5 separate regions of the Homo sapiens genome follow, and regions 1, 2, 3 and 5 are each linked to region 4. Evidence: fine-mapped expression QTL. A gene starts in region 4. Each other region holds a variant in brackets. All regions are shown on one strand. Distances are from middle to middle. Region 1 overlaps MYO5A (myosin VA). Region 2 overlaps MYO5A (myosin VA). Region 3 overlaps ATOSA (atos homolog A). Region 4 holds the start of MYO5A (myosin VA). Region 5 overlaps MYO5A (myosin VA).

What was found.
Region 1: its variant is fine-mapped to the expression of MYO5A in subcutaneous fat (TwinsUK, PIP 0.95).
Region 2: its variant is fine-mapped to the expression of MYO5A in esophagus mucosa (GTEx, PIP 0.96).
Region 3: its variant is fine-mapped to the expression of MYO5A in neutrophils (BLUEPRINT, PIP 0.92).
Region 5: its variant is fine-mapped to the expression of MYO5A in whole blood (TOPMed, PIP above 0.99).

The regions. Positions count from the first base shown.
Region 1 is chr15:52,430,729-52,437,058 of GRCh38, forward strand. MYO5A (myosin VA) reads right to left here. Exons shown (of 42, transcript NM_001382347.1): 2 at 2,447-2,557. Among named protein-coding and RNA genes, the nearest start is that of MYO5A, 95 kb to the right of the region's middle. The variant CT/C (reference allele first, on the strand shown) is at 3,271.
Region 2 is chr15:52,330,087-52,336,416 of GRCh38, forward strand. It overlaps MYO5A (myosin VA), which reads right to left. Exons shown (of 42, transcript NM_001382347.1): 35 at 267-413. Among named protein-coding and RNA genes, the nearest start is that of MYO5C, 37 kb to the left of the region's middle. RefSeq lists an enhancer at 1,662-1,791. The variant G/A (reference allele first, on the strand shown) is at 2,743.
Region 3 is chr15:52,643,564-52,649,893 of GRCh38, forward strand. All of the region lies in intron 2 of ATOSA (atos homolog A), which reads right to left. Among named protein-coding and RNA genes, the nearest start is that of ATOSA, 33 kb to the right of the region's middle. The variant T/C (reference allele first, on the strand shown) is at 2,515.
Region 4 is chr15:52,524,992-52,531,321 of GRCh38, forward strand. MYO5A (myosin VA) reads right to left here and starts at 3,889. Exons shown (of 42, transcript NM_001382347.1): 1 at 3,789-3,889. The coding sequence starts at 3,815. RefSeq lists a silencer at 3,539-4,418.
Region 5 is chr15:52,377,781-52,384,110 of GRCh38, forward strand. MYO5A (myosin VA) reads right to left here. Exons shown (of 42, transcript NM_001382347.1): 16 at 5,311-5,408; 17 at 2,042-2,128; 18 at 1,845-1,953. Among named protein-coding and RNA genes, the nearest start is that of MYO5C, 85 kb to the left of the region's middle. RefSeq lists enhancers at 1,539-1,928, 5,704-5,763, 5,804-6,033. The variant C/T (reference allele first, on the strand shown) is at 2,768.

The sequences.
Region 1 (6,330 bases), 94 kb before region 4:
TCTGGTTGGCAAATCTGCTTCTTATAATAGGGTATGGATTAGCAATTCTGAAATAACTTTATGTCTATAATGAATAAGTAATATAGCTAATGAAAACCAAAAAGAGAAGTTATAGTACACATAATCAAAGGAAGAATAATAGAATGAACCTGGTGGCATTGGACTGGAGAAAAAAGGATCCCTATTAACTCACGGGTTTTATTTTTTTTAAAAAAAGTCAAGGCTGGGTGCAGTGGCTCATGCCTGTAATCCCAGCACTTTGGGAGGCCGAGGTGGGTGGATCACTTGAGGTTGGGAGTTTGAGACCCGCCTGGCCAACATGGTAAAATCCTGTCTCTACTAAAAACACAAAAATTAGCCAGGCATGGTGGCATGCGCCTGTAATCCCAGCTACTCAGGAAGCTGAGGCACAAGAATCATTTGAACCCGGGAGGTGGAGGCTGCAGTGAGCCGAGATTGCACCACAATACTCCAGCCTGGGTGACAGAGCAAAATTCCGTCTCAAAAAAAAAAAAAAAGTCTAGTGCAGTAGCTGATGCCTTTAATCCCAGCACTTTGGGAGGACGAGGTAAAACGACTTCTTGAGCCCAGCAGTTCAAGACTAGCCTGGGCAACATAGCAAGACAACCATCTCTAAAAACACATTATATATATAAAATACATACATACAAACACATACATACATATGTAAACATAGACATAAAGTAAGTATAGATGGTTGAGTATACATTAGTATAGTATGCATACATATTAGTATCTATCTATCCATCCATGTATATATTTTTCTAGCTCTCTATGCTAAGAGGGCTGAGAAGTGGTGTCATCTCAATAGCAATGAGCACACCTAGTGCTCAGATCTTGGCTGTCAAATACTATCCTCCAATATAAGGTAACAGGGCTGGGAAAGGGGAAATACAGGGTAAGTATCTTAGGGTACCAGGAGAAGTGCTATATCTAAAAAAAAAAAAAAAAATAAGCCAGGCACAGTGGCTCATGCCTATAATCCCAGCACTTCAGGAGACCGAGGTGGGAGGACTGCTTGAGCTCAGGAGTTCGAGACTAGCCTGGGCAACATATTGAGACTCCATCTCTACTAAAAAAATTTAAAAATTAGCCAGGCATGGTGGCTCATGCCTGTGGTTCCAGCCACTAGGGAGGGAGGCTGAGCCTGGGAGGCATGATCAAGCCACTGCACTCTAGCCTGGGTGACAAAGTGAGACCCTGCCTCAAAAAAAAATAAAAAAGGATAGGGACCTGTCAAAAAAGTCAAAGGACCCAATCTAAGAGAGATCTCAATGACCAAAGCTGGAACAATTTAATTGATAAAATAAATAATGATAGTAATGAAGAATAAAAGAAATACCCATGAGCCCATAATAAATAAATGATTAAAGTAATAAATAAATGGGAGAGGAGAAACAATACTTCCTTCCCTATAGAAGAATTCTAGTTAATAAGTATAGAAGGAAGGAAAGAAATGGAGAATCACCACTAGAACACAACGATATTTGCTGCAGGCAAGACACAGTAATGAACACTGGGCAAATATTAGCAGGAAAAGTTTAAGGAGAAGCAGGATATATGAGTGGCCTCAAAGCATCTGCCCCAACACAATGACATTCATTAATTACAAAGGGAAAACAGTAACTTTACAGTGGATAACATGGCAGACATCACCTTAAGCAACTGGTCATGGCCAGCAATCTGCAAAAATCCAATATAGTCAAATAGTATAAGCACTCATCTTAGAGTCATCTGTGTTCAAATCTCACTTCAAATTCCAAAAGCCACTTCCTGGCTGTGTGACCTTGAGCAAAACTACTTAATGACTTTGAAGTTTGGCTTTCTTATTTGGAAAATAGTGATTATATCACCTGCCAACCCATAGGGTTGGTGTGAAATTTAACGTGAGAAAATTCACTCCAAAGTGCCGAACATTTTGCCTAACAAAGCAGATGACCAATAAATGTTAAATAAGTTAATTCCCTAGTTTGGTATTAAAAGCCCTCCTAATTGGCCTAATTCTTCCCCGCCTTCCTCCCAACTAGTATCTTCCCCTCAGTTTTGCTCTCCATGCTGCCACCAATGAGTCTCCTCTAAGACCTGGCACCATGCCTCTTTTTAAAAACACTACAAGCACTCCCCATAGCACACCAGTTAAATGCAAGAGTTTTAGGATTAGATGTGAATCTAAACCTGATAATCATAATAAATTCACAGGCCAAAATAGAAGCTTTTTAAAGTATCTGCTATTTTCACTAATCTATGCCATTAAAAACACTATCAGGATAGAAAACTGAGTTTGCCATTTTTACCAATTTAGTAAGTAAAAATTCTAGGTAAGTTCAAAATTTAACTTCCATTGGGAGTTTACTTCACAGTAAATTTACACTTTTGAACTCCCTTCACTTTATGCCAATGACAACAAATGAAAGTGAGATCTCACCTTTCCTTCCTCGAGGTGAAGCAGGAGGACTTTATCTCCTGGCTTATAATCTTTGAGCAGCTCTGCTGACTTCCAGACTTCCTCTGGATCAGGTATCCAAACCCTGGCAAACTAGAAGACAAAAAGAAAAAAATTTAAACTAGCAAATCAATTATTTTACAATCATATATAAACATATGATAACTATTTATAATTAAACAATTTATGAAAAAAGAAATCTTGGCCAACATGAAATTCACTTTTTTTTTTTTTTTTTTTTTTTTGAGACAGAGTTAAGCTCTTGTTGCCCAGGCTGGAGTACAGTGGCATGATCTCAGCTCACAGCAACCTCTGCCTCCTGGGTTCAAGCAATTCTCCTGCCTCAGCCTCCTGAGTAGCTGGAATTACAGGCGCCTGCCACCACACTCAGCTAATTTTTTTGTTTTTAATAAAGATGGAGTTTCGCCATATTGGCCAAGCTGGTCTCCAAACTCCTGACCTCAGGTGATCCACCCGCCTCAGCCTCCCAAAGTGCTGGGATTACAGGTGTGAGCCACCACGTCCAGCTGAAATTTACTTTTTAAATTAGTAAACAAAAAATATTTTAGCTCTCATAGCACCACCATTCCCAAATTATATAAAAAGTGTGCTCTGAAAAAACAGTTATGATCAAAGCTTGACTTTGCTTTACACAGTAAATGCCACCTGAAAGTATAATTTTAGGTTAAAATGTACACATAAGATCTATTTTTGAAGCTATGGTGTTGTGGTTCTGCCAGTTTCAACAGCACTGCCATCTTTTTATGGCTGGGTTTACAATTTGGATTTTTTTGTTCTTTCTTTTT[CT/C]TTTTTTTTTTTTTTTTTGAGATACAGTCTCGCTCTGTTGCCCAGGCTGGAGTGCAGTGGCACGATTTCGGCTCACTGCCACCTCTGCCTCCCGGGTTCAAGTGATTCTCCTGCCTCAGCCTCACGAGTAGCTGGGACTACAGGCATGTGCCACTGTGCCCAGCTAATTTTTGTATTTTTAGTAGAGACGGGGTTTCACCATGTTGGCCAGGCTGGTCTCGAACCCCTGACCTCGTGACCCACCTGCCTCAGCCTCCCAAAGTGCTGGGATTACAGTCATGAGCCACCGTGCCCGGCCCACAATTTGGATTTTTTTATGGTGGTTTGCATCCTGTGCTCTGCAAAGCCTTAGTGATTTCTCAGACATCCTTCAGGAGCCATCACAGTAGGGAGAAGAGGAGAATAAAAATAACAGATTTTTTAAAACTGAAGAAACACGGTTGTTCAGCATTTTGCCTTCATTATTTTATAAAGATGAGTGGGAAATGGTAAAAATGGCACAGCCAGTCACTAATAAGCTTAGCTCCTGTAGCCTCAACATCATGAAAAAGGCATGGTAATCATCAGGGATTCCCAAAGCAGCAAATATTTTGCCTCAACTAGATACTCCCTGGACATAAGCCAGAAGATTATGTGGTCAATTTTGAAGAAAAAGAACAAAATATACTAACATGCACAAATCTTTCGAATACCACATTGAAGAAGTGTTTTTATGTGCTTGGACTCTCTGGGAAGAAATTTCCCTTTAAAACACACATACACTAAACCTAAATGCCCATTTTCATGAACAAATCACATATGAAAACAGGAATCCTAGATTCAGCCAGCAAGGGAAAGACATGACACAATCAATCATGGCTGGCATGGGCCAGACTGAACCCGGTCTCTGGCCTGTATCTGTATCCTCATTTCATGTAAATTCACCTCTAGATTTCATTTTTAACAATAATCAGGGTACTAATTTACTTGGAGCTTTGAGAAGGAGCATTTGGATTTGAGTATGTTAAATATGGGGCAACTTCCCAAAGAACTGTGATAATGTAATGACTATTCTAAGTACTGGGCACAAAGTTCTGGAAGCTTGTAACAAGGTCATTCCCAAGTACAAGAGAAATTTATATGACCCAGTGATGAACTTACAGATAGGAGAAAGCGAAAAGAAAGTGGGTGAACGAAAGTACAGGTAGATCTGAGATTCAAGATAATTTAAATTAAGAAAAACATTTCAGCATGCCATGCCACTGTCCTGGATATTACGTTAACCTCTTTTTTTTTTTTTTTTTTTTTGAGACGGAGTCTCACTCTGTCACTCTGTCACCCAGGCTGGAGTGCAGTGGCACGATCTCGGCTCACTGCAACCTCCGCCTCCTGGGTTCAAGTGATTCTCCTGCCTCGGCCTCCCGAGCAGCTGGGACTATAGGCACATGCCACCACACCCAGCTAATTTTTTTCTATTTTTAGTAGAGACAGGGTTTCACCGTGTTAGCCAGGATGGTCTCGATCTCCTGACCTCATGATCCACCCGCCTTGGCCTCTCAAGGTGCTGGGATTACAGGCATGAGCCACCATGCCCAGCCTATGTTAACCTCTTTACTGACAAATATTTTCAAGCCTTCCTATTGGGAAGCTGCTGTGGTATATTGCCATAGTTTCCAAACTACTAGATTTCATGGCTGGTAAAATTTTTTACTTAAAGTTTGGGGACTGATATAAGGTTATTAACTAACTTTTAGTCTTGACAAGTAAGATTATAAAACCATTAATTATTGGCAGCACTTACAGACAAGTAGAGGCTAAAGCCCTCACACTCAGCAGAGGCAACATAAATACCAATTTACTGTCTAATATCACCATCGTTTTACAAAATAAAGGACATTTTAACAAGAAAACAGTAGGACAAATAGCCATCACAGTTTTTTTGTTTTCTGTTTTTCTGACACAGAGTTTTCCTCTTGTTGCCCAGGTTGGAGTGCAATGGCATGATCTCGGCTCATTGCAGCCTCCGCTTCTGGGGTTCAAGCGATTCTCCTGCCTCAGCCTCCCAAGTAGCTGGGATTACAGGTGCCTGCCACCACACCTGGCTACTTTTTTGTTGTTGTTGTATTTTTAGTAGAGACAGGGTTTCGCCATGTTGGCCAGGCTGGTCTCAAACTCCTAGCCTCAGAGAGTGATCCTCCCACCTTGGCCTCCCAAAGTGCTGGGATTACGGCGTGAGCCACCACACCTGGCCTGGCCATCATAGTTAACATACAAATCCCTTACCATGTTCTACAAGGGCCTTCATGACCTGTCCTTTCCTTCCCCTGCCAACCTCTAAGCCGGCACTATGCAGATCTTATTTTAGTTCTTCAGGAACACAGTTTTGTTTGCTCCTGTCTCTAGACCCTGGCTCTTGTTAAGCCCTCTATAATGTACTTCTCCCAGATCTGCTTATGTCTGCCTCCTTCTCACTTATATGATAGCTCAAATGTAAACCTCTTCAGAGAGGCCTTCCCAGACCTTTCTAGCGGAAATCAATCCAAACTACTATTACCATTCTCTATTTTACATTCTTCAGCACTCTTATTCACTATCTGAAATCACCTGCTGTTATGTTCTTGTTTGTTTACTTATTTACTATCTCTCTTCCTTCATTAGAACATAAGTTCTGTGTCTGTGTTGTTCAACACAGCAGGCAGTACTTAGAACAGTACCTGACACAGAGCTGGTGCTTAGTAAGAACTTATCGAAAGAAGATCAGAATAAAAGGCATCTCTTTAAATTGAATATAAGTAGCATGATTAAAAGCTCGCTCAATTGCTTTAATTTTCTCTTATTATTACCAACACATACAAACTTTTAATCTAAACAGTTTGCAGAGGAAAGAGTATGGAATTAGACTATGGGTTCTACTCCCAGGGCCACCAGATGGGCCTTGGCCTTTATTTCAGGCAACAATAAAATGAGGATGACAACAATAGTCTTCTAGTTTATTGCAAAGGCTTACGCACATAGAAACTTCATGAAAAGTATAAACCAATATATAAGTACAAGGTGGGGTTGTTACTGTTTTTCCCATA
Region 2 (6,330 bases), 190 kb before region 4:
AAAGCTTCCAGGTGATTCTAATGTGCAGCCAGGGCTGAGAAGACCTGATCTTGAGCAATCCTTGTAGGTGGGTCTGAGGCATGTGTCCCTGCAGTTGGACTGAAAGTGCTTGGTGTGGTCAGAACACTACTGCAGCACTAGAATACATGGTATCTGATGATGACTAATGAAACCTACGCTGAATATCTCAAAAATTAGTGACTAGTTTTTCCCACCATTAACCCATGTGCCAGAAGGAACTTTTATCCAATGCAGAAAATACTTGCCCAGAATCAGGTTCTTAACAAGTTTTTGCTCATCCTCCTTCTTGTATTCCAGCATCCCTTGGAAATCCTTTTCTTTCCTGGGAATGTTGACTGGTCGGATGGGTTCATCAATGATCTGTCCTGGGGATATGTTCTCCATCTGGCCCACTTTATGAGAAGTAAGAAAGGAGGAGAAAATGTTTTCCATATAAAAAACATGAGAGGTCTCCAAGTTCCTATAATTTTGAATGCATTCTACAACAACCGAAACTTGCCATATTTGCCACTTAATTGCCTTCTCTTAAAATAATTTTTTTCTGTTAAAATTGGGTGAACAGATGGCAAAATTATATGGTCATCTTACTCTGAAAGCCACTCCTGCCTAACTGTAAATTAACATCAAATAACCTTACATGACTCAAAACTTTTTTTTATGTAATAAGGCTTACTTTTTAATAAGATTAAATGTCCAAAAAGTAAGTGGTTTAACAGATTTGTTAATTAATTGATACTAATCAGAAATGGTTAAACATATTTTGACTTTAATTCACAGGAGGAACAATCAATATCCTACAAAGGGGCAGAAGGAGCAGAAACAATTCCCCCTTGCTCTTGGCTCAATGACTTTAGCCATTAAAAGCAAAAGAACATTTACTTTAAATGTATCATTACAATCAATTCAAAACACATACAGATAGCTGGTAGAAGAGTGTTTCTTCATACCACTTGGTCCAAAATGTATTATTTTTCACAAAGGCCTCATATGGCAAAGACCTAATTTTCTCCTGCCATCCTCATTCCCAGAGAAATCATGAACAGATAAACTATCTCTATGTAGTATGATTTCCTAAATGTTATTATTTTTTATTTCTTTTTAATATAATGTTAAAAATTCTACTTATAAAGTTGCAATCAATGAAGTACAACCACTGGTTTACAATGCTTTCAGATGTTAAAAATAGTCACTATTGTCAAGGGCAGCAGCTAGAGAATTATGCTAAAGGTTAAAAAAAAAAGTCTCCAATTTCATCTCAAAATTGAGACTTGAGTGGGAAATCCAACAAAAAGTAAAGGGACATATGAGTTACCACAGCCACTGTGGAGATACACGCTAGTAACCAGGTTTTTTATCCTTTTATCTACAGGGAGGGAGAGTGGTTAAGAGATTTGTTTAAGGGCAGATTAAGTTTGAGTTCTGAGATTGCTGTCAAACAAAATGCAGATCAGATGCAAAAACATTAGAAAGCTTAATATTGCTGACTCCACGAGGTGTCAGTAGTGCTTCTTGTGTCACTCTGGGTAATTTCCTGGGTTAGTTCTGAGAAGCCAGTCCCACAGGAAGAGGTTATCACAGAGAACATCAGTACCTGCCAGTGCTCTTGCTTATGTGGCATGGAGCCTGGTGACACACCGTCCACCTCATGCTGCAGCAGCACACACTGGGACTATCAGCGCTGAAAATCTGGTTTAGGTGAAGTCACCACCATCCAGCAACACTATGATATCTAAAGAGTGGTCAGATTGTGATTGGACAGATCAGGGCTACGGCCATCTCCCATAATCTAGTTTTTCATATGCATGATCCAGTATGAAAGCCACGGGACTAACTCTAAAGTATATTCTTCCATGCAAGAGAAAAGGAGACTCAAACTGTTTGGTTTTACATAATTTCTGGTGTCAGTTTAAACACAACACCACAAGGACCTCTGAAGCAGCACACAGTGGCCTCTACAGATCATAAACCTGCAGCTGCATGTAAAAAACAAAATTATAAAACCCCTGCCATCTATGCCACTAGTAACTTTTAAGCCGCATGTACAATTCCAAAAGGGGAAACTGGGAGAAAACAAGTTCAACATACTAGGTTTATCAATAAATGCACATATTTGGACTCCATGTAACCCAAAGAGCATATTTTAAACCCACTGATTTATCAAATCTATGATGCTATCGGTTATGAAATACAGTATTTTATGTAACACTAAAAAAATTGCCAACTAAACTATAACCCATCAACAATTGTAAGATACACCCCAATTTCAGAGATGTTGAAATGGGAAACACTGCATCTCAGAATTTGTGAAATACAATGGATATTTTTACTAAGAAAGTTTATGTTTTAAAAGGAAGCTTCACCTTCCTTTTGCAAAATCTCTAACCAGGATATTTTTGGTACTGTATAAAAATGTCAGATAGAATGTGCCATACTCTCACTAAAAACTTTCTCTCTGCCTCTGAATTCTCCCTAGGGACTTAAGTCTTTGCAAAGCTCACAAATGAAATTTAGATGTCAGTTCAACATAACCTTGATTGATTTTGCAATATTATCTACTAATTAAAATAAAATGTTGGCCGGGCACAGTGACTCACACCTATAATCAGAGCACTTTGGGAGGCCAAGGCAGGCAGATCACCTGAGTTCAGGAGTTCAAGACCACCCTGACCAACATGGAGAAACCCCATCTCTACTAAAAATACAAAAAATTAGCCGGGCATG[G/A]TGGTACATGCCTGTAATCCCAGCTACTTGGGAGGCTGAGGCAGGAGAATCGCTTGAACCTGGGAGGCAGAGGTTGCAGTGAGCCGAGATCACGCCACTGCACTGCAGCCTGAGTGATGAAAGCCAAACTCCATCTCAATAAATAAATAAATAAAGAGGCAACTAGCTAAGCCTTTTGCCCTTCCACCTTCTGCCATGTAAGAACACAGAGTTCGTCCCCTTCAGAGGATCCAGCAACAAGGCACCTGCCATCTCGGAAGCAGAAACCAGACCCTCTGAACTTGCCAGTGTCTTGACCCTTCAGAACTGTGAGAAATAAATTTCTGTTCTTTATAAATCACCCAGTCTCAAGTACTTTGTTATAGCAGCACAAAGGGACTGAGGAGCCCAATGATCCATTCTTCTAGGAAGACCTGAAAAAAGACTCTAGTTTCATTTTCTAGATTCTTTATAAACTTGAGGGAACCTTTCTGTCTTCAAAAAGGAAAGAAAATTGGAAAGTTTTAAAAAAATTTACTTTTGGCACCAGGAAGATCTTGATCTCAAGTTTGAGACAATCAGATGAATTCCTAATAAGTAGAAGATTTCTGTGGGAAAATTTGACACAAAGGAGAGAAATCAGTGGCCCTTAGAAGGTATGTGTTCTAGTCCTGCCATCTCACCTGCTGCAACCATGGGTCACTTACAGGCCTTAGTTTTTTCCTCTTATGAAATAACTAATTGATTTCTAGAATCCTTTCAGGTCTTAATTTCTTGATTCCATGAAAATTAAGATGGGTGAAAATATAGCACAAAGCAGATCAAATTTTGAAACACTCTCCATTTAGCTATATAGTTTCTGCCAAAAATTATATATGCTAGCATTTTTTTTAAAAGTCTGTTGGCTTTTTAAAAAGCCTCCTTAATTAAATGTAGCTTGTAGGAGGAGGCAAGAGTTGTGCTATTTTAAACCAAAAGGATTTAAGTGTGTTGCAATACATTTAAAGAAAAGTATAAGACAACGTTTAGTTATTAGAAGGTGCCTGTATTTTCTGTGTAACAGGCAGATACGAGGATGAAAAGTGTCACCTTGATTCTCTTTATTTGGGGTAGAAGCAGGTACACTGCACTCAGCAAGTGCCCAAGTCACATAAATCTATTTCATTTCATCCTCTAGATATGTATCACTTAACTCAAAATGTAACTCTTCTTAAGAACTATTATAATGCCTTTTTTGTTTGATCTATGAATTGCTATTCTCAAATGCTACTTATGGCTTTACAGCTGTCTGGATAGTTTAAATGATGAGGTTGATTTCTGATTGACAATGGCTTAAGATTAGTAATATCTTAAAATAGTCTAACCCATCTCTTCAACTAAAAAATATACATATCAAAGAAAACTAATAAAAATTATGTAAAATAATGAATGGCTTTTCTGTTTATCAAAATTTACTAAAGTATGGCAAAGGAATCATTAGGAGTTGAACAAAAAAAGAATCTCACATGTTAATACACTTAAAATCTGTTTTTTTCAAACAAATACTCTGCTGTCTGATTATCATCTCATGATATAATTGGTGCAAAGTGCAAAAAGTTCTCTGAATAAAGATTTTTAAGTTCTGCTAATAGACATTATAGCTCATGTGTGTGTGAGTGTGTGATGTGGAGGCTCAAATTTTAATGTAATATATGACTCATGTAATGCTAAAGGATTATATATAAAGTGTGACTATAAAATAATCTTTCTGATTTCTAAACAAATATTTCAGTATTTGTACATCCAACAGAGTAATATCCTTTACAAAGTAAATGTCCATGTTGCCATGTTATAAATATTTCTGAAACTTACTCATTCACTCAACAAACATTTATGGAATGATTATGAGATAGGTCAGACACTATGCTAGGTGCTGTGAAAGCAAAGGGAAACAGAGATGTTTTCTATGCTCAGGAAGCTCAGAGTCTATTATGGAAGCCAGTAATTCAAACAGAAAAATTGCTAAAAATATGACATAGTGAAGACCATAAAAGATGTCGGCCAAATTGTGGTACACAGAGAGCAGAACCATAACGTCTGTCTGGGTAATCAGGAAAGGCTACTCTTGAGGATGTGACATATGACTCTGGTCTCAAAGGCTGAGCAGGACTTAACCAGGAGAAGCAGGATGACCAAACAGAAGGAGCAGTTATGACAAGACCTGGCATGTTGGAGGAATGAAAACCACACTTGGAGTTAATCATGATAGATTCTTTTGAACATCCTCAGTGATGGGGAATCTTCACTGTTTGAACCAAGCAAGAATTAGATGCAGAATGACAATGAGAGAAAATGATTAACCGTTCACACAGGTTTGAAGGCTATTCCAAAGACTGTCTCAAAATCCCTTAAGCAGTGAGAACATTGAAATAAGCTTAAAATTTGGCTTTAGGCTGGAAGCGGTGGCTCACGCCTATACCCAGCACTTTGGGAGGCTGAGGCAGATGGATCACGAGCTCAGGAGTTCGAGATCAGCCTGGCCAACATGGTGAAACCCCGTCTCTACTAAAAATACAAAAATTAGCTGGACATGGTGGCATGCACCTGTAATCCCAGCTACTCAGGAGGCTGAGGCAGGAGAATTGCTTGAACCCGGGAAGCAGAGGTTGCAGTGAGCCGAGATTGCACCACTGCACTCCAGCCTCAGCGACAGAGCAAGACTCTGTCTCCAAAAAAAAAAAAAAAAAAAAAAAAAGGAGTTTGGCTTTAGCCTTGTTCACTGCTAGATCCCTGTACCTATAACTCTTAACAAATAAACACATAAACACACTAATAGAAAAGATAAGATCCATTTGTATATAAATAATAACAACAACTGATATTTGGTTATTTCTCAAGGAATTTTTTCATCATCATCATATAGAAATCATGAGATGTTTTTAAAAATCTTATTTCTTTATCATCATAATTCATATTTTTCTTTTTTACTTCTCTATTTTTCCTCCATTAGACTGTAAGTTCTTTGAGGACAGACTCTATCATACTCATCTTAGTATCCCTAATACTAAGAATAATGATAGTGACTAATAACTAAGTCGCATGAAGCATTTTTACTATGCGTCAGTAACTTTTCTAAGTGTAATATACTTATTAGGTTGATGCAAAGGCATTTGCAGTTCCTGCCATTAAAAGTAATTGCCTTTGGACCAACCTAATAGCTCATTCAATCCTTATAAACCATGTCAGATAGATGCTATTATCTTTCTAATTTAACAGATGGGAAAGCACAGGCATACAGAGGTTCAGAAACTTGCCCAATATCATATGATTAATAAGTAGAAGAGCTAAGATTTGAACCCAAGAAGCTTGACTCCAGAATCCACATTCTTAACTCCTATGCTATACTGCCTAGCACATTGTCTGGCATATAGAAGATATTCATTAGATGCTTACAGAGTAAAATCTGTAAATTATTACTACCCATGAAAAGAACATTTTTCCTCATTTAAAAATGTAAATTTCTACTCAAAAGAGGTTAGGTTTGCCAAAAGTCATATTTTGTTATTATCCCTAATATTTGCATGCAAACCTCTATTAGGCCACTTATATAGCCTAGTCTTTAAGCCAAGA
Region 3 (6,330 bases), 120 kb after region 4:
TGAGCCACAGTACCTGGCCTTGAACTCTTTTTTTTTTTTTTTGGAACTAACTTTTTAAAAACTGTATTTTAGCCGGGCGCAGTGGCTCACGCCTGTAATCCCAACACTTTGAGAGGCCGAGGCAGGCGGATCACAAGGTCAGGAATTTGAGACCAGCTTGACCAACATGGCAAAACCCGTCTCTACTGAAAATACAAAAATTAGCTGGGTGTGGTGGCGTGTGCCTGTAATCCCAGCTTCTCAGGAGGCTGAGGCGGGAGAATCACTTGAACCCGGGAGGCGGAGGTTGCAGTGAGCCGAGATCACGCCACTGCACTCCAGCCTGGGCGACAGAGGGAGATTCAGTCTCAAAACAAACAAACAAAAAAAAACAAAAAAACCCTGTATTTTAAAGGTTTAAATCTCACCATATATGAAAGTCTTTAAAAATATTATTTGGTAGAGTTTTAAAATCTTTATAAAGTTCCTGAATATATCTGTTAAGTTTATTCAAAAATTAGATGTTTGTTGCTTTTGTGAAAGGCTTTTTTTTTTTTAATTTTTGGAAAGATGGTCTTTCTATGTTGCCAGGCTGGTTTTGAACTCCTGGCCTCAAGCAATCCTCCAACCTCGGCCTCCCAAAGTGCTAGGATTTCAGTCATGAGTCACTGCGCCTGGCCTACATTTTCTAACTTAATTTCTATTCTTATGGAGGAAAAATTTAACTTTACCTCTTCATCAGATTCTTCAGATTAAAAAATTAGGGTAAGAAACAATCAGATGATCTCTGTTTCAGCTTACATACATAATTCTTCATTACATCCATCTCATCTGATCCTATTACCCTCTTTCATGTCTTTTTATCATTGTTAGAAGAGCCTATGACATCTTATACTTTTCCTTCTTAGAATTTAGCACAAATAAAATTAAGTCATTATTTGAGCTTTATGAGAATTAAGACCAACTACTATTGCTTAGCACAGTGCTCGACATGAACAGGTAGGCACTCAAATGGATGTTTAATGTTTCACTGTATTTTGTTTTCTTAGTTTCAGCTTATTTCTGGTTAAAGTGATGAAAGCTAATTGTTACCCTTCCCAGATAACTATTACTTTATTCTTCTCTTGGATTTCATATTTTAATTGCCAATTGTTTTTCTATATTATCAATGTAATTCTCTTCAATGAGATAAGGAAACATTTGTTTAAAATGATTAGGCAATCACTAAATCTCTACATCAAGGGCAAAAATTGTCAAAAATAAAAAATAAAAGGGGAGAACACTTTGAGTTCTAATTTCTGTATTGATTACTAGAATTTCTAGGCCTCAACAGTCATTTAAAGGATTATAGATTGATCACAGCAACCTATTGAATGCTTATGTGAGCAGCTGAGGGCAACTCAAACTATACAAAGAAAACTAAATTCTAAGTAATTTGAAAGGCTAGAAGAGTAGAAAAAAGAAGTATTTGATATTTATGTGTTAAAAACTGTCTGAGATTCAGCTCTTCTCCAGAGGCAATGGGAGAATAAGCTACTGTTGCTAACTTCTAGTAGGGGGCAGTCGTATGGAGAGAACACAGATAAGCCTAATTCATGGTAATGTGATAAATGAGGTCAGGCGCAGTGGCTCATGCCTGTAATCCCAGAACTCTGGGAGGCCGAGGCAGGCACATCACTTGATGTCAAGAGTTCGAGGCCAGCCTGGCGAACATGGTGAAACCCCATCTCTACCAAAAATACAAAAATTAGCTGGGCATGGAGGCACATGCTTGTAATCCCAGCTACTTGGGAGGCTGAGGCGGTAGGATTGCTTGAACCTGGGAGGCGGAGGCTGAAGTGAGCCAAGATCACGCTATGCCACTGCGCTCCAGCCTGGGCGACAAAGCAAGACTCCATCTCAAATAAATAAATAAATAAATAATTTTTTAAAAGATAAATAAAATAGGAGTAGATCAAGGTGCTATGGGAATATTTAGGAGGGAACTCAATCTTGGACATCAGAGAAAGCTCCCAGTGGGTATGATATCTAAAATGTATGACTTAGAACTAGTCAGTGTTATCGAGAAAACTTACTGGTTTCCTCAATTCATTTCTGTCTTACCTGCACTAATCCTATTCAATTTCATTTCTCTGTGCTCTGTGTAAACCATCAGACACAATTCATCATAGTCTCAGGGCCTGAAGACTCTCAAGTAGAAAATATTGTCCTTTTCACTATTCTTTGTGGGAATATTCCTGATTATATGGTGTTATCACTCCACACCTCATACAGAAAGAACTCTGAGACAAAGATCTGAGAAAACATTGTAACAAAAGGAAACAAACTCCTGCCTCTCAAAACCAAATTCTAGATTTACCTGTACTCTCATAAGAATATTCTGTGTTAAAAAGGCAACAATCCACTATCCCAGTGCTGTTTTTTTCCCCCAGCTTCATTAATCCTACACAAATGGCACATGACTTTCCAAAATTATCCTTAAACTTAACCTAGTTTAGTCTTACATTTTTACCTCATGGGAAAATGGTTACAACA[T/C]AGGCTGGTTTCCCAAAATACATTCTGTCCTTTCAACATCCTTCTCCCAACCATATGAATGACCCCTACTTCTAGTACTCTCAACATCCTATTTCCCACTGAATGCGTCTATGTGTGAAATCTAAAACTCCTGGAGAAATAAAAAGTGGACGGAAGACAGGTCTTTTTAATTAAGAGGTGAGAAACTTGGGCACACACAGATCAGTTCTGCTTGATTCTCTTGAACAAAGATAGAACTGGGTGACATTCATAGCAGTGGACCTGTCATTTCTTGTGCAGAATGATTTCTGGAAGAGATTCCGGGTGGCAGTCTAAGGCCAAAGGAGGTGTCATTAGGTCTTCTCTAATCTCAGTCTACAACTCAGAGATGTGGCCTGTAGGTTCTGAAGACCTGAACACCGCATTCCAGGCTGGTCCTTTTGTGCTAGGTTTTCTATTTGAAGCCCATCTAGAACGTAGGAGTCCACAAAGGGATACTGGGTACTGTCCAGGGCAAACCCATCTACAAGGGTACTAATGTATGGAGCACATATGGGAACATTTTACCATATCCCTTGAAGTGGGGGAAAAAAACCATGTGACACTTTGCTTGCATACATATTCTGAAAGTTGCATCCAGTCTGTTTTAAGCCTCAATTTTTAAATATTAATGCTTTCATACTCTGACTATAAACAAATTATGTTAAAAAAAGTTCTTAACCTAAGGTAATTTATGATCCTCTTTGGTATTTTCCACAAAATTATGTGTACATAAATATAGATGTGTTTTTCCCCCTAGCAAGGGGGTTGATAGCATTCAGCACATTCTCAAAAGGGTCAGTAGAAGATGCTGACGTACAGCAATCATTCTGTTTCTACATGGATATTTTTGAGAGAAGCGATTTAAGGTAAGTATGCATTACCCAAAAACATATACACCAATGCAATGTAGTCATTTAAAATTAGGATACCTATTTTTAAAAGGGTTCTCCTCCCCTTTTGTCAACTGTAAGTAGTCTCTGGGCCCAATGCAGAAGCTAATTGGTTAATATTACTGGACTCAATGACAGTGATAAAATGGAGTATACTTGGAAAATACTTTTGTTTTGTTTTACATTTGTGTGTTCTCTTTCATTAAGCTAACCTGCACCTTCCAGCAAATTGGAGGGCTAAATTAGTTTATGTAAAAAAAAAAAAATCACAAAAATTTTACCCTTGATCAAAATATGAAAAATAGAATGGAAACCAGATTAAACCTCTCTCCCAAAATAACATATGTCAGCTCAAAGCAATGAAAATACTGTGGTCAGTTGAAAGAAGCTGAAGTTTTGTGTACTTATGAAAATGACAAAAGAGCATTTTGGCTTTGAAGTTTGAGTTTTCACAAAACCATTAGATTTTTAGTCTTAAATTTTAATATTTCAAGACAATTACACTCGTATCTGTGATGATATTTAATTTCTGCCTTCCAGGCAGCTGGCTTGTCCCTTGTCATTAATATGGAAGGCAATTACAATGTCACCTTTAGCTCAGTTCTAGCTGAGGAATTCAAAAGAAAAGTCAGAATAAAGTTACTTCCCAGTAAATAAATCACCAAGGGATTTAGCAACTCTAGTCAATCAGCTCAGCATTTGCAGGGGTCAAAGGGGTGGGGGAAATCTGGGGGTGTCAGTACACACGAGTGTACATACACACACAACAGAAACAATAACACTACAAGAATCAAACTGTATGAATATGTTATCAAAACACTACAAACAGAACAAATGTTTCTTTTGCCTTCTATGTCTCTTCTCATTTTACTCATTCTTTCCTTACCACTATTGACTATTATCTTTCTTCAGATATTTAGCCATGCACTTACCCATGAACCCTGTCTTCTTTTTCTGCCCCAATCCCCATATCTCCATGGCTTTCCAGTTAATGAAGTACCTTAGGAAACTGAGAAACCTAGAAGTGTATCTTAGGGAAAGGTCTAAAAAACTATGCTTAAAATTCTCAAAATACTGAGAAAACTCAACATATTCACGTTTTTAACGTAGAATAACTTTAAAGGAAAGTTATAATACAATCTCACATTTTATTATAATAGCTAATTAATAAGTAGTAATGAATCTAAGTAGTTTCGCACATTCTTTCATTTAAATCCCACAATCATCCTAAAATCTCATGATACCGAGGGGGATACTAAGGCCCAGAAGGTGAAACTATGCCCAATATTACACAGCTAAATAATAAATTATACAGGCAATCCACCCAAAATTGTTTTTCCTTTTTATTTATTGATATACCACAGTTGTATGTATTTTTGGGGGTACATGTGATATTTTAACACATGTATATGATGTGTAATGATCAAATCAGGGTAACTGGAATATCCATCACCACAAACATTTATATTTTCTTTGTGCTGGGAACATTACAATTCTTCTCTTCTAGGTATTTTGAAATATACAATAATTATTAACTATAATTTCCTATCATATTATTGAATGACAGAACGATTTCTTCTAACTGTATGTTTGTACCCACCACCCAAAATTTGAACCTCAAAAAACAAAACACCTTCAAAATATTAAGAAAACAGAAACCAACATAAATTTTAATGGTAAAAATTTAGCAATGTTAAAGAACAGGAATATACATAACTGATTCACACAGCATCCCTCTCATATGACAGATGACAGGAAGCTTATAGCAAAATCTGAGGCCCATCCATGTATGAGCCTTAGGGGCTGATTACTTTTTATACTCTATCTTGACTACTTCCTCAAATTTATAATTTTACTGTTCCTGGGCTTATTATAAACCTTCTCTTCAAGTCCTATGATGTCCAGAAGTCTTTCAGTGAGTAAAACTGAGGAATCCAGTGAAGAAAGAACAGAAAGATATTTCCAGTTTCTCAATAGTCCTCATGCTGTCACTTTTATAACTGAGCCTCATCACAAAGGATTATATAATAGATTCAAGTAATACTGCAAACAATTACATTTTTAAAACTTAGGTCTTTGAATTTTTGATACTATAACATCTGAAGATTAAGAAAAAAATTTACTATATACTTGCAAAAGCAATACAGTTTATGCAAAAACACTGTCGATATGTGAAAATGCCTGACAAAAAGTTGTCAAGACCAAAGTTTTGGCCCTGCTGACTATGAAAAGCAAATATTTCTTAGATTCAAACTATGAACAAGTAATGAAATTTCCGCAAGGAAGAGTCAAGGAAAAAAATGTGTCATATATCACTTAAGGCATACATATAGAAATCAAACATTTGTGATAATACCTGAAGTAGGAACGACTTAAAAAAAGATTTTCACAGAACACTTAGAGAAAAAGAAAAACTCAGATTGTTACCCCTTCCCAATCTGAGTTTTTAAGTTACATATTTTTTAAAGAACTGTAAACAGCATTATATATTATTGCCTGATTTCAAAATAATCAAAAACAATCTGTTTTACTTAAAACCAACTGTAGCAATCACTGCATCTAGTAAATACTAGCACTTCTATTTGCTATTCCTTATAAAGAGGCAAAAACAAAAAAGAAATCACTGTTTTTGAGAATTAAAGTATTTTTCCATAAGCACAAAACAATAGCCAATTTAAAGATATGACATAGACAAAGACAATAAAAATTATATTGTCAAATAATAGACAAATCCAAAAAACTGAAATATGCTAGCAATGTTATTATAACTGACTAGATTATAAACCTCAACTACCCTGAAGTTCTGCTACTGAATAGGAACTTTCAGATGCTCCAGTATATAAAACATTTTTAGGTGCTAAGCCCAGCAATAATGTCTGGAATTCTGCCAATAATATTCCTCCTG
Region 4 (6,330 bases):
ATTCATTATAATGTTCCCGATAATCCTTCTAGGTCTAATTGATAAACCCTACTCCACAAATGTAGAATTGCTTCTAGTTACCAAAAGCACCTATGGATGATGTATGATATAGATATCCACTGGCAAGTCAAGACTAGCAAATATTTTCAAAATCAGAAGCAATGAGATATCATAGTTTCCTTTAATTCTTTTGGGAGCAAGGCAGGTTGACCACAAACACATCAACATACTACTCTGTGAATAAACCAAAAACCATTGAATAGTACACTTTAAATGGTGAATTATATGGTATAAGACACATATCTCAATAAAGCTGTTATTTTTAAAAATCAACAAAACATGTTTTAACCAAAATATTCGTTTCCAGACAAGTATCCCAAGAACCTAGCTATTGTCCTTAAAATGTTTATACTGCTGGAAAAACTTACAAAATGGAAGCCTTGTTAAATTGCTGTGACAAAACCATTACCATTCTGGCTAAAAAGAAGAAATTGAACAGTCTCTTGTCCTTCACTGTAATAGGAACTGATCTGTATCACACATTAAAATCTGCCCTTAAGATCTGAATGACATTTTTTTAAAGAGCACTTTTCAGATTTAACCACAATGTTAAATACCATAATTATGGCATATCACTAATACATCTTTCCTTGTAATCTATCCTAGAACTTCCTTCCTATAATCCTCTGCAAGGGGAAGATCCTTGTGCTTATCCACTGATAATACTTCTAATGATTTTCCTATTCCTCTAGTAATTACAATAGTAGTTTTTATCTCTGGAATCAGCCCAACCTTCCCCATGTCCCAACCCATTCCCTAACTTCTACTAATAAATATCATACCAGCTGTCTGCCTGCTGTTGAGGTAACAGCAGGTTATTTATGCCCCTATAGATTCAAAGTGGGTCAAGAATGTAAGAAGCAGACTATGAGCGTGTTGAGGGAAAGGACTGTATCTTGTTCATTGTTAAATCCTCTAAACATTAAGCAAAGTACCTGGCACACAGGATGCCTGATAAGTATTTCTGCTTGCCATTAAGCTAAGGCCCATTCACAAAAAGAATTTGCCAACAAATAACCAAGTAACCAGACTATTAATTAGGCATAAGTATATTTAGAAGAAGGCAGTGTAAGCCCCAACTTCAGTCTTGATCTCTAAGCCAGTCTGTCTTTATAATGACAAAGAGGTTAAAAAAAATTTTTTTTCAACACACGGTCTTGCTGTTTTGCCCAGGATGGAGTGCAGTGGCACAGTCATGGCTCACTGCAGCCTCAACCTCCCAGGCTCAAGCAATCTTCCTGCCTCAGCTGATCATCCTGCCTCAGCTCTCGAGTAGCTGGGACCGCAGGCGTGACTAACTCGCCCAGCTAATTTTTATTTATTTATTTATTTATTTTTTGAGACAGAGTTTCGCTCTTGTTGCCCAGGCTCGCGATCTTGGTTCACTGCAACCTCCGCCTTCCAGGTTCAAGTGATTCTCCTGCCTCAGCCTCCTGAGTAGCTGGGATTACAGGCATGCGCCACCACGCCCAGCTAATTTTCTATTTTTAGTAGAGACGGGGTTTTGCCATGTTGGTCAAGATGGTCTCGAACTCCTGACCTCAGGTGATTCACCCACCTCGGCAACGTGTTGGGATTACAGGCGTGAGCTACCGTGCCCAGCCTAACTTTTTAATTTTTTTGTAGAGACCAGGTCTCATTATGTTCCTCAGGCTGTTAAAAGGTAAATTTTAAAATAGATTGTGATAAAGCTGTGACAGAAGCCCAAAACTTTACCATTTACAAATCACAACATCTTTTCAATTTTTTCTCCCAAATTATCCTGGGGGAAAAAAGCATTCGAAATCCAACAACAATTTATTATCCACTCAGTCTCTAGTTAAGCAGCCTACTATTAGGTGACTCAAAGATGACTGCTCACCATATAGAACGGAGGGTGTCCAATCTTTTGGCTTCCCTGGGCCACACTGGAAGAAGAATTTTCTTTGGCCACACATAAAATACACTAATGATAAATGATGAGCTAAAAAAAAAATTGCAAAAAAAACACAACAACCCATGTTTTAAGAAAGTTTATGAATTTGTGTTGGGGCACATTCAAAGCCGTCCTGGGCCCACATGCGGCCCATGGGCTGCGGGTTGGACAAACTTGATGTAGAAGTGGAGGGGATGGGCTACACAAAGTAACCAAGGAATGTTTACAGACTGATTATCTCTTCATGTGAAAATGATTTTGATATTTCTTAATATCGACCTCATAAGTTCCTTATGAGGATTATGAGTTCATATTTTTAAAACGCTTAAAACAGTACCTGGCACATAGCAAGCACCATATTAAGTGTTTAAGTTACTTTTAATCAGTTTCCAATTGCATTCGTTCATATGTTAGAGATCTACAATGCCTAAAGAAATTACCAGGTTGAGAGAGAAGTTCCAACTGTACAGTCGTTAAATCTAAAACTAGAAAGAAAGAGGTCTCAGACAATGTTTCATGCAAGCTCATTTCATGGTTGAAGAAATTAATCATATATCTCATATTTGCAGAGAAATTCATAGGTTACAAAAAGCTTTCACAACGATTATTAAGTTTGATTCTCACAACAGCTTGTAAGGGATGCAAGGCAAGTATAATTAACTGCATTTACTCATTAGGAAATCGAACCAGAGATGTTAAGTGACTTGTCCAAGGTCACAGTTAGTAAGTCCCGGCTTGAATCCAGGTCTCTTGATGCCCAGTCTTCTTTCCTCTACAAAACACACTGCAACTTGGGCCCTGGACTTCAGTGACATTTGGAAACAATGATTCCAGTGATTACAGGACCCTAAATGAAAGTTCTGTTGCAAAAGCTAATGTGAAAAGGCAACTCTATTAACTGCATGTAGAAGTAATCAATATCTGGCAAAATATCTACCTACACATGAGTGTACAGTATAAAATGCCATGATTACATATATTCACAAAGGTCATCACAAATCTGCGCAGCACTCAAGTGACAGTTCTCCATAATATGTCATTCAGAGATCGCCAGACCCTGAGTATATTGATGTCAGTCTAAGAAAAGACTGCCACTTCCCTTAAACCAAACCCAGAAGGGAAAGGCTTGCCCCAGAGGATGGTAAAGACATGGAGCCTAACAAGGCTCTGCGGGATTACACGCAGGTTGCAAACTCCCAGCGATAAATGAGTACCGACCCTCCCAGCCGGTGAATCAGCTCGCGTTCATCCGGCAGCATCTTTCCCCGGGGCTCGCCACCCCCAGCGCAGCTAAACTGGGGAGCTAAAGGTGATACGGCCACCGTTTGCAGGATTCAAAATAACCTCACAGAAAGGCTAGCTGGCGGTAGAAGCGGCACTGCATACCAACACAAGACGTTATTTTAAGCGCGTGTCCCCACGAGAGAACCCATCCGATCTACTGGAGCAAGCATCTCCCACCCGCCGGGAATTTTCCAAAGCCAAGCAGGAGGGGAGGCACGCCCGCCCTGCTAAATCCACATGGGCCCCCTTTCCACTCCGAAGCCCGCTCTGCCCCCAGCTCGAGCAGCGCGGCAGGGGCCTGGGAGACCCCCGAGGCGGGCCACCTTCCGCCGCCTTCACCATCTCGCCCGAAAGAGGAAGGTGCCGCAGCGGGCGACCGGCTGGTAGGGCCGAGGGTTCTGAGGCGCTGAAGGGGATGGCGCTGGTGGGGCTCGCCTGGGCCCGGCGCTCCCGCCCCCTCCCCAGCCTGACAGCTGGCGGCGAGGGCCGCACAGCCCCAGTCCTCGACGCCGGCCGCGGGGTGCCTTACCTTTGTGTAGAGCTCCGACGCAGCCATGGCGGGCCCCGCGCGCCTACGCCCCCCGCCTGTGCGGAGGCCGCACCTCGCCTGGGCGGCCGCCCGAGCGGACTAGGAAGCGCCCGCAGCCGCCGGCAGGGAGCAGGGCAGGGCAGGGCCGGGCGGGGAGGGCCGCGCGGGGCGGGGCGGGGCGGGGCGCCTCAGGCGCTGGCCGCCCGCAGGGGCCTCGCCATCACTCCCGGGCTCGCCGCGAGCAGCCGCGAGCGCTCCACCTGCCCGGGGTCCTAGGGGTCGCCGCCGCCGCCGCAGCCACTTCGGCGGCCCGCGATGCTGCCTCCGCTGCCGCCGCCGCCACCGCCGCCGCCCTGTGCATTATGGGAGCGGGAGGAGGCTGCGCTCCAGCGCTGCCACCGCGGCTGCTCTGGGCTCTCTCGGGCTCACGCTGCCTCCCATCGGCTACGAGCACAGAGCATCATCATCATCAGCCTGCCAGCCGGCCCCGCCGCCGCCTCGCGCCCTGCCGAGGCCCGGAAACCCGCCCGGGACGTGAGCCCCGAGGGCGCGGCACACCCCGGGCGCCCCCACCCCGAAGCGAGCCCGGGGCCCTCTGCTGCGGAGCCTAGCTCCCGCGGTAGCGCAGCCATGGCACGGGCTGTTACTGTGTCCGAATAAACGATGGGAGCCTCCAGGCTGCTCCTCCCGTCCTTCCAAGCATTCCTAGGGAGAGGATTTAGGGGAAGCCCTCTTGAAAGACTGTAGAATAACCCAGGACTGTAGAAGAGCCTTGTCAGCAGCAGTGACCCGGGAGATGGGCAATGCAGGACCGGGAATTTCAGGTTAAGGTTGATCACCAAGGTCATTCCGAGCACCTCGATGTCTGCAGCAAAGTCGTCTCCCGATACCAGAGGGCAAGGGCCGCTTCTAAGCTACAGAAACTTAAGTGACTTTGAAACGAGATAGCCCGGGGACAGCCCAGGTGCCTCTTTCCTAGACCTGTGCGTTTGCGGAGATGCAACTACCCTTCTGTCCCAGCCTTCTTCCCGTCCTGTTCGCTGCTGGTGATTGTCGGCTCCATGGTGGCACCTGAAGTTTATCCGGTTGCCACCTGAAAATGACGGAGTACTTACATGGAAAATCTGTATTACAGTTTAACTCAACATCAAAAGGGCAAAGCCGCCCTCACTCTCCTCACGGTGATCCTTGAACATCCAGCACAAGAATGTGGTCTTTCTACTCCCAACCCTGCGCTGTCTTCATCCTCTATCTTCTCCCCACCCTCATTGTCGTTTCTGGTTGAATAATCTTCATTCTTTATTGTTGTCGTTGTTGTTGTTGCTGTTTTTGTTTGTTTAATCCCTGCCTCTTTGTAGTGCCCTCATCTCTCGTTTCTTTGAACTACAACTGGTCCCCAGTGCCTGTCATGGTAATCTGGTAGACCATTTCTATCACGAACAACTCTCATGGCTGAGGCCCCCGGTTGTGTGTGTTGTGTGCGTGTGTATTTGGAGAAAGACCATTCACTGAAAGGAACGGGGCCAGTCCTTACTCCGTGGAACTCAGACCTCTCCTCTTCGCCCACAATCCCCTCAGAAATGCTAGAGGGAATGTCTACTGAGTCGAAAGTCCTACAGATTTGTCTCTGTTCCTTCCCATTGCAAAACCAAATCGCTTTCATGTTTCTGGGACCCACTCTTTCTTCACCCAGACATAAAAAGAGAAAACGTGTGCAGTGACGACCAGCGGAACGGAAGGAGCACTGGACTGAGATTTAGGAGGCCTGGCTCCTACGCCTTGCAGTTTCTTCATGTCGTGTGCAAGGTGGTAACCACTCTGCCTGTTTTCTCACCTTCAAATAATACCTACCTCTCAGGACTGTCGAGAAATGCTGAGTATACTGAGAAAAAAAAAAAAACTAAAAAACTGGACGAGTTCTTGTAGGTGTGAATGCTTTCTTCGTTTTCTATTTTTTTCAAGTGATGAGGAGAAAACAGAAAGGGGAATTATCCTCTTATAAGTCCAGAACGCATGCATTCAACCACTCAAATATTTGGGGCCATACTAAGAGGAAGGTAATGGAGATGAGGAGGAGAAGAGTTTTGTATTTTTATTTATTGATTGATTGATACTGAGTCTTGTTCTCTTGCCTAGGCTGGAGTCCAGTGGCACAATCTCGGCCCATTGCAACCTCTGCCTCCCAGGTTCAAGCAATTCTCATGCCTCAGCCTCCTGAGTAGCTAGGATTACAGGTGTCCACCACCACGCTCAGCTAATTTTTGTATTTTTAGTAGAGACGGGGTTTCACCATGTTGTCCAGGCTGGCCTCAAACTCCTGACCTCAGGCTATCCGCCCGCCTCAGCCTCCCAAAGTTCTGAGATTACAAGAATGAGCCACCACGCCTGGCCGGGTTCTGTATTCTTGACCTTACTTTACTTTGTTCAGAAAAAAAGCAGAGTAAAAAGCCAGAAGCAGCAAAGGGAAGCCCCGAGGGGTGGCCTCCGCTCACTTCCATGTATGCGTTCATAGTCCCAAGCACCCTGTCACTAGTGAGGTGTA
Region 5 (6,330 bases), 150 kb before region 4:
GGGTGGCCTCAAACGCTGGGCCTCAAGCAGTCCGCCCGCCACGGCCTCCAAAAGTGCTGGGATTAAGGGCGTGAGCCACCATGCTTGGCCATGTGATCTGAAAGTCTAAGGGAAAACAGAGAAAATCATTTTTCCCTATGAGTAGATATCTCATATTATCTCATATATGAAACCAAAAAATCTGACACATCCACATATATCTAAAAAATCTACAATTATTTCAATTTAAATCAATAAAGTTTACATTGGAAACCTAGCTAGAAAAGTGGTCCTTACCCGCATCCCGCTTCACACCTCACACCAACCCTGCCTCCATCTTTCAGCCTCCTCTGCCTAACTAAATTCCCACAAAGCCCTGATCCAGGCCTGAAATGGCCTGGGTGAGAGGACCAGGAATAGGCCTGTTCCTACTTTCTGCTCTACATTCCCACCTGAACACAGGTTAGAAGGGGATTGGGCAGGCTGGGCGCAGTGGCTCACACCTGTAATCCCAGCACTTTGGGAGGCCGAGGCGGGCAGATCACGAGGTCAGGAGTTCAAGACCAGCCTGGCCAACATGGTAAAACCCTGTTTCTACTAAAAATACAAAAATTAGCTGGGTGTGGTGGTGTGCACCTATAATCCCAGCTACTGGGGGGGCTGAGGTAGGAGAATGGCTTGAACCCACGAGGCGGAGGTTGCAGTGAGCCGAGATGCCACTGTACTCCAGCCTGGGTGAAAGAGCAAGACTGTCTCAAAAAAAAAAAAAAAAGAAGGGAATTGGGGCAAACTCAAAAAGCCCCAGTTAAAAAAAAAAAAAAAGCATTGCTGAGGAAGTGGCCTTAGCTCTTTCAAGGAAAAAATATTATTAACAAAAAAAAGGCATCACATTTAGTTCACAGCTAGTAATTATGATCAATTAGCTCAAAGTGAGGTACTCCATCTAGGATAGTGTTAACCAAGTGAAAATATTATTTTAAAAACTTTTCATGAATCTTTAATTCTCTAAGACCAAGATCAGTAGTTCTCAAAATATAGTCCTCAGACAGCATCGGCATCACCCGGGAAATACAAATTCTTGGGCCCAACCTCAGACCTACTGAATCAGAAATTCTGATGGCGGGGCCCAGCAATCTGTATTTTAACAAGCATTCCAGGTCACAGTAAAGTTGGAGAACTCTTTAGCCTGGTCTGCAAGACTCTCTGTAACACCAACCTACATTTCCTAACCATTTCTCTACTGTCCCATACACAAATCTCACACTGCAAAAAACTGTTTTCTGAGCAAACCCTATGCTTACCCTGCTCTTACTCCCTCTTATAATAGTCTCCTTCCATTTTTGCATAACCTTACCCATTCTCAGGGCCTGACTCAAAACACACCTCTTTGATGAAATCTCTCCTTCCCATAGCTGGACGTCGCTTTGTCATCCCCTGATTTCTTGTTCCATTCATTCAGCATTTGATATAGACACTACAGTTAAATATTATACTCGTCTTTAAAAAGTATTACTTTCCAAGTAAGACTATATTACCTGAGAACAAGCTTTATTTTTTCTTAATCACACAGCATTTGGCCTGGTGTCTTCTAGATGTAAGTACTAGGTACACTTTTATCAATAATAATCAAGCTGTCTAAGAAGAATGTGTTTCAAATGTGGGTCCAGGCCTCACAGCTCTGCCTCCTGACGGTGGACTATCATCCTCGCTAGTTCCAGCATCCTAAACACAGTAGTGTGCCCCTCTCTGATCCCACCCCGAAATGATCTGGACTAGTAAAATGTTATACAAAAGTTCCCGGGGCTTTCCAAGGTCAGAACCACAAGGCCTTCTGCTCAGATGACGGTAAGCGAAATCATTCTCACCAGTATCAGTTTCTCTAACACATTCTTGCATGTTTGCTTTCTGTCACTCAGCACATCTTTCTGCTTCATTAGGACACGGTAGCGGCTGAAAAATTCTTGGTAAGTCCACCTATTAAAAGAAAACCATCTGAGTTTACTTAAAGAACTAGGATCTTCTCCCATTAGGATCCCTTACATCTGAAAAATGCCAGGCTCACCGTGAGGGGAAACCGGCCGCACTGATTCGGATGGTTTCCAGGACACCACATGCTCTCAGCTGCTGCACTGCCCTCTTCTCATCAAACCTACAAATAAAAATCAAAGCTGTTAGTCCACAAAGAACCTGGCTGGTGGCCACAAATTACTCTCCTCAGTCAGGGTGTAAATTCTTTCGTAAGAGCAAAATGGATAAATCAGAAAAGAAAGCTTTCAGAAGTCGGAGCAGTGATCAAAATGGAAAACTATGAGAGAATGGGGAGGAGATGATAAGCAGTAAAAATAAAGAGCTGTAAACATTACCTGCAACTCAAACCACAAACTCATAAGAGTGTGCTGGGCGAGGTAGCTCACACCTATAATCCCAGAATTTTGGGAGGCCCAGGAGGGTAGATCACCTGAGGTCAGGAGTTCAAGACCAGTCTGGCCAACATGGTGAAACCCCGTCTCTACTAAAAACAGAAAAATTAGCCGAGCATGGTGGCATACACCTGTAATCCCAGCTACTTGGGAGGCTGAGGCAGGAGAATCACTTGAACCTGGGAGGTAGAGGTTGCAGTGAGCCAAGATCGCACCACTGCACTCCAGCCTGGGTGACAGAATGAGATTTTGTCTCAACAACAACAAAAAGAAAGTCCACTGAGCACATTTAAAACAACACAACATGGCTGGGCGCAGTGGCTCACGCCTGTAATCCCAGCACTTTAGGAGGCCAAGGGCAGGCGGAT[C/T]ACGAGGTCAGCAGTTTGAGACCAGCCTGGCCAACATGGTGAAACCCCGTCTCTACAAAAAATACAAAAATTAGCCAGGCATGGTGGCAGGCGCCTGTAATCCCAGCTACTCCAGAGGCTGAGGCAGGAGAATCGCTTGAACCCGGGAGGCAGAGGTTGCAGTGAGCCGAGACCACGCCATTGCATTCCAGCCTGGGTGACAGGGCGAGACTCCGTCTAAAAAACAACAGCAACAACACAGCACTCCTTTGCACTTTGCCCATACTCATTTCATGGCATGGCCTGACAAGAAGCTCTCAGAAGTCATTAGCTCAGTATACAGAGCTCCCCTGGAATAAAGACTGGTCAACCCTGGAGATTTCTCTAACAGGAAGCACAAATTAAATATGCCCCATACGGTTATATTTTTTTAAAAATTACTACTGTTCTAAACATAGTGTCTACATCAATGAACAAGATTTTTGTTTTGTATTACATTTTGTATTTATTTTACTCTAGGCAAATGACATCTTCAAGTTAAACTGGCACTGAAGAGGAAGTAGAAAGGTTTCCCTTCGGCCAAATGATTGCTCCTGTGACTCCCATAGTTAAGTTCTGAGCGATCCATCCGGGCCTCCCCTGTGCTATCTTCTCAGGTGTCTGTTGGTGGTGGAAGAGCGGGTTGGTTGATAAAAGGTCATGGTCCTGAGGGCTGTCCAGGACAGAGGCCAAAGTGTAGCAGCTTCTTCCTGCTTCCCACTTCTTCCAGAAAGGACTTCTTGGTGATGAAGCAGAGAGAAAGACAGCAGTCCTTCAGAACTGTGCTCCAGTCTAAGGCAGAATCTCCAGACAGCAGGACTGGCACGGGGGTAGGGAAAAGGGCACTCATACACTGTGGAGGGGGTGAGGGGTGGGAGCTATTACAACCTTTGTTAAGTGTGCCTGGTCTTTGACCTATAAATTCCACTTCTAGAGTCACATTATCCCAATGAGATAATCAGACAAATATACAAAAATGTTTGGCACAGGATGTTTATTATAGCATTGTTGGAACAACTTAAATGGCCATCAGTAGGAACTAATTTAAATAAATATACTATGTCTACACAATGGGATACTCTGTAGCCATTATATGATTATGTGACTTTTTACTTACCAAAAGGGAAAGTGTTCACAATCTGTCAAGTTAAAAGTAAAGACTAAACAGCAATCATAGCACAAGGCCCCTCCTTTTGTGTCTCTCTCTCTCTCTCTCTCACACACACACACACACACACACACACGGAGCATGGAGGGAAGGGAAGGTGGTTAATCAAGAACAATGTATGACAGTTAATACCAGTTATCTCTCTGGGTATGATGGATGCTTTTTCTTTTCCTTTTTTCTTTTTTTGAGACGAAGTCTCACTCTTGTCCCGCAGGCTAGAGTGCAGTGGAGTGATCTCGGCTCACTGCAACTGCAGCCTCCCAGGTTCAAGTGATTCTCCTGCCTCAGCCTCCCGAGTAGCTGGGATTACAGGCGCCCGCCACTACACCCGGCTAATTTTTGTACTTTTAGTAGAGACAGGGTTTGACCATGTTGGCCAGGTTGGTCTCAAGCTCCTGACCTCAGGTGATCCACCCACCCTGGCCTCCCAAGTGCTGGGATTACAGGTGTGAGCCACTGCACCCGGCTGACGGATGCTTTTTCATTTATTTTTATACTATTCTGTATTTCCTGAAAACTGTCTTTACAATGTACATGTATTACTTTTAAAATTAGAAAAATAGGCTGGGCATGGTGGCTCGCGCCTGTAATCCCACTGGGAGGCCGAGTGGGGACGGATCACGAAGTCAGGAGTTCAAGACCAGCCTGGCCAAGATGATGAAACCCTGTCTCTACTAAAAATAGAAAATTAGTTGGGCATGATGGTGCATGCCTGTAATCCCAGCTACTCGGGAGGCTGAGGCAGGAGAATCACTTGAACCTGGGAGGCAGAGGTTGCGGTAAGCCGAGATCGCGTTATTGCACTCCAGCCAGGGCAAGAAGAGTGAAACTCTATCTCAAAATAAATAAATACATACATAAAATTAGAAAAATATTTCTGTTTTGTAAAAAAAACTCCAGAAAAATTGATTCTCCCTTCATGCATGGTATCTGAAGCAGGAGGAGGTGCTGGTGAAAACAGACACCCTCTGATGATTTCAGCAGTGGAGAAGCAGCAGGTAAGCATTCGCCAAACAGCCTTATCCCAGCCAGTGCTGGTTCCACCTAATGCCCAAATGAACAAAAATCCCAGAGAGATCAATTGAAGTAAATTCAAAACAGAAAACAGAACCAGAATGCTTGGTTGACCTCAAGTTTTCAAATCTTCAGATGGCTGCTAATTTACTCTCACATTCTCAAAAGGGACAAAAACTGAAAAAATAATCTACTGACTAGTGGTTTCCCTCTACAAGGCATGAAGACTTACCCAAATATTTTTTTCCTTATAAAAATGTAAGGAAAATATTAGTTTGCTTGGCTGGTTTGGCACTTCTTATAAGATATGTACTTTTTCACTGGGTGGTTCAGAAATACTTACGTGAATGGGAACTTGAAGTCATTAGGCTTGATACAGCGCACATAGTGAGGGGTAGTGGCATTGAGTGTCTCCATAAGCAGGTGCAGGGAGTTTCTGAACTGCATGAAAAAGGGCAGAAGAGGGTATCAAGGCTTTGTCCAAAGTCAAAGGTGAGGTAAAACAATGGGAAATTCCCTTCCTATGACACTAATGGAGAAAACTTTGCCACTTATAAACTTGACCCATCTTCAGAAGAGGAGCTGCCACAAAACAAGAATGCTAGGGCTTTTGGTTAAAATTTGCCTAAATTCTACCATTTTCATGCTTACTCTGCTAAATATAGATTCCTATACTCCCACTCCTTTTCCCCACAGGAAGCTACAGAAACCTGTTATGAGCTTAGTCATATGTAACTAACAATATAACCTTGCTTTAAGGCTATTTAATCACATAAAGTGGGAATTTTGATGGAAGATACTGGAAAACGTAGCAGATGACTTAAAAGAGTATAGGTAATGAATGAGAGAATGACAAAGGATAGGCAGAGAGGAGTTAAAATTAGGGACCTAGGATCAGGACTGGAGGCTGTGGACCTGGGTCAGGCCCTGTTTCTGTCTACACCAGGCACAGGGTCCCATGCACAGGACAGCAAGCTGAGGAGCGCTCAGCCTCCATTCAAAGCCCTACTCCCTGTTCAGGCACTAAGCATGTATGTAACATTTCCCACTCTCAGAGAACATAAGACATCAAAGAAAGGCGAGGGCCCTGTTCTGAAGGAGCTGACCGAGGCACTGTACAAATATAGAGACAAAACAAACAGAAAACTAAGCAAAGATGGGGTGGTCTGAGAGACGATATGCACGAGAGAATTAAGCTGTAGAGAAAATTATTTCGGGAAAGGCTTATGCAGAGTCACAGGTCTAAAACTGGGTGGAGAAGAGTTTTAGTGGATGGTGTCGTATGATCTCACAGTGAAAGCTCTAGGCTCTCCTCACCTGAGGATCCCACCTGGGAGGCTGAAGAGGGAAGATCTGAGGTTTC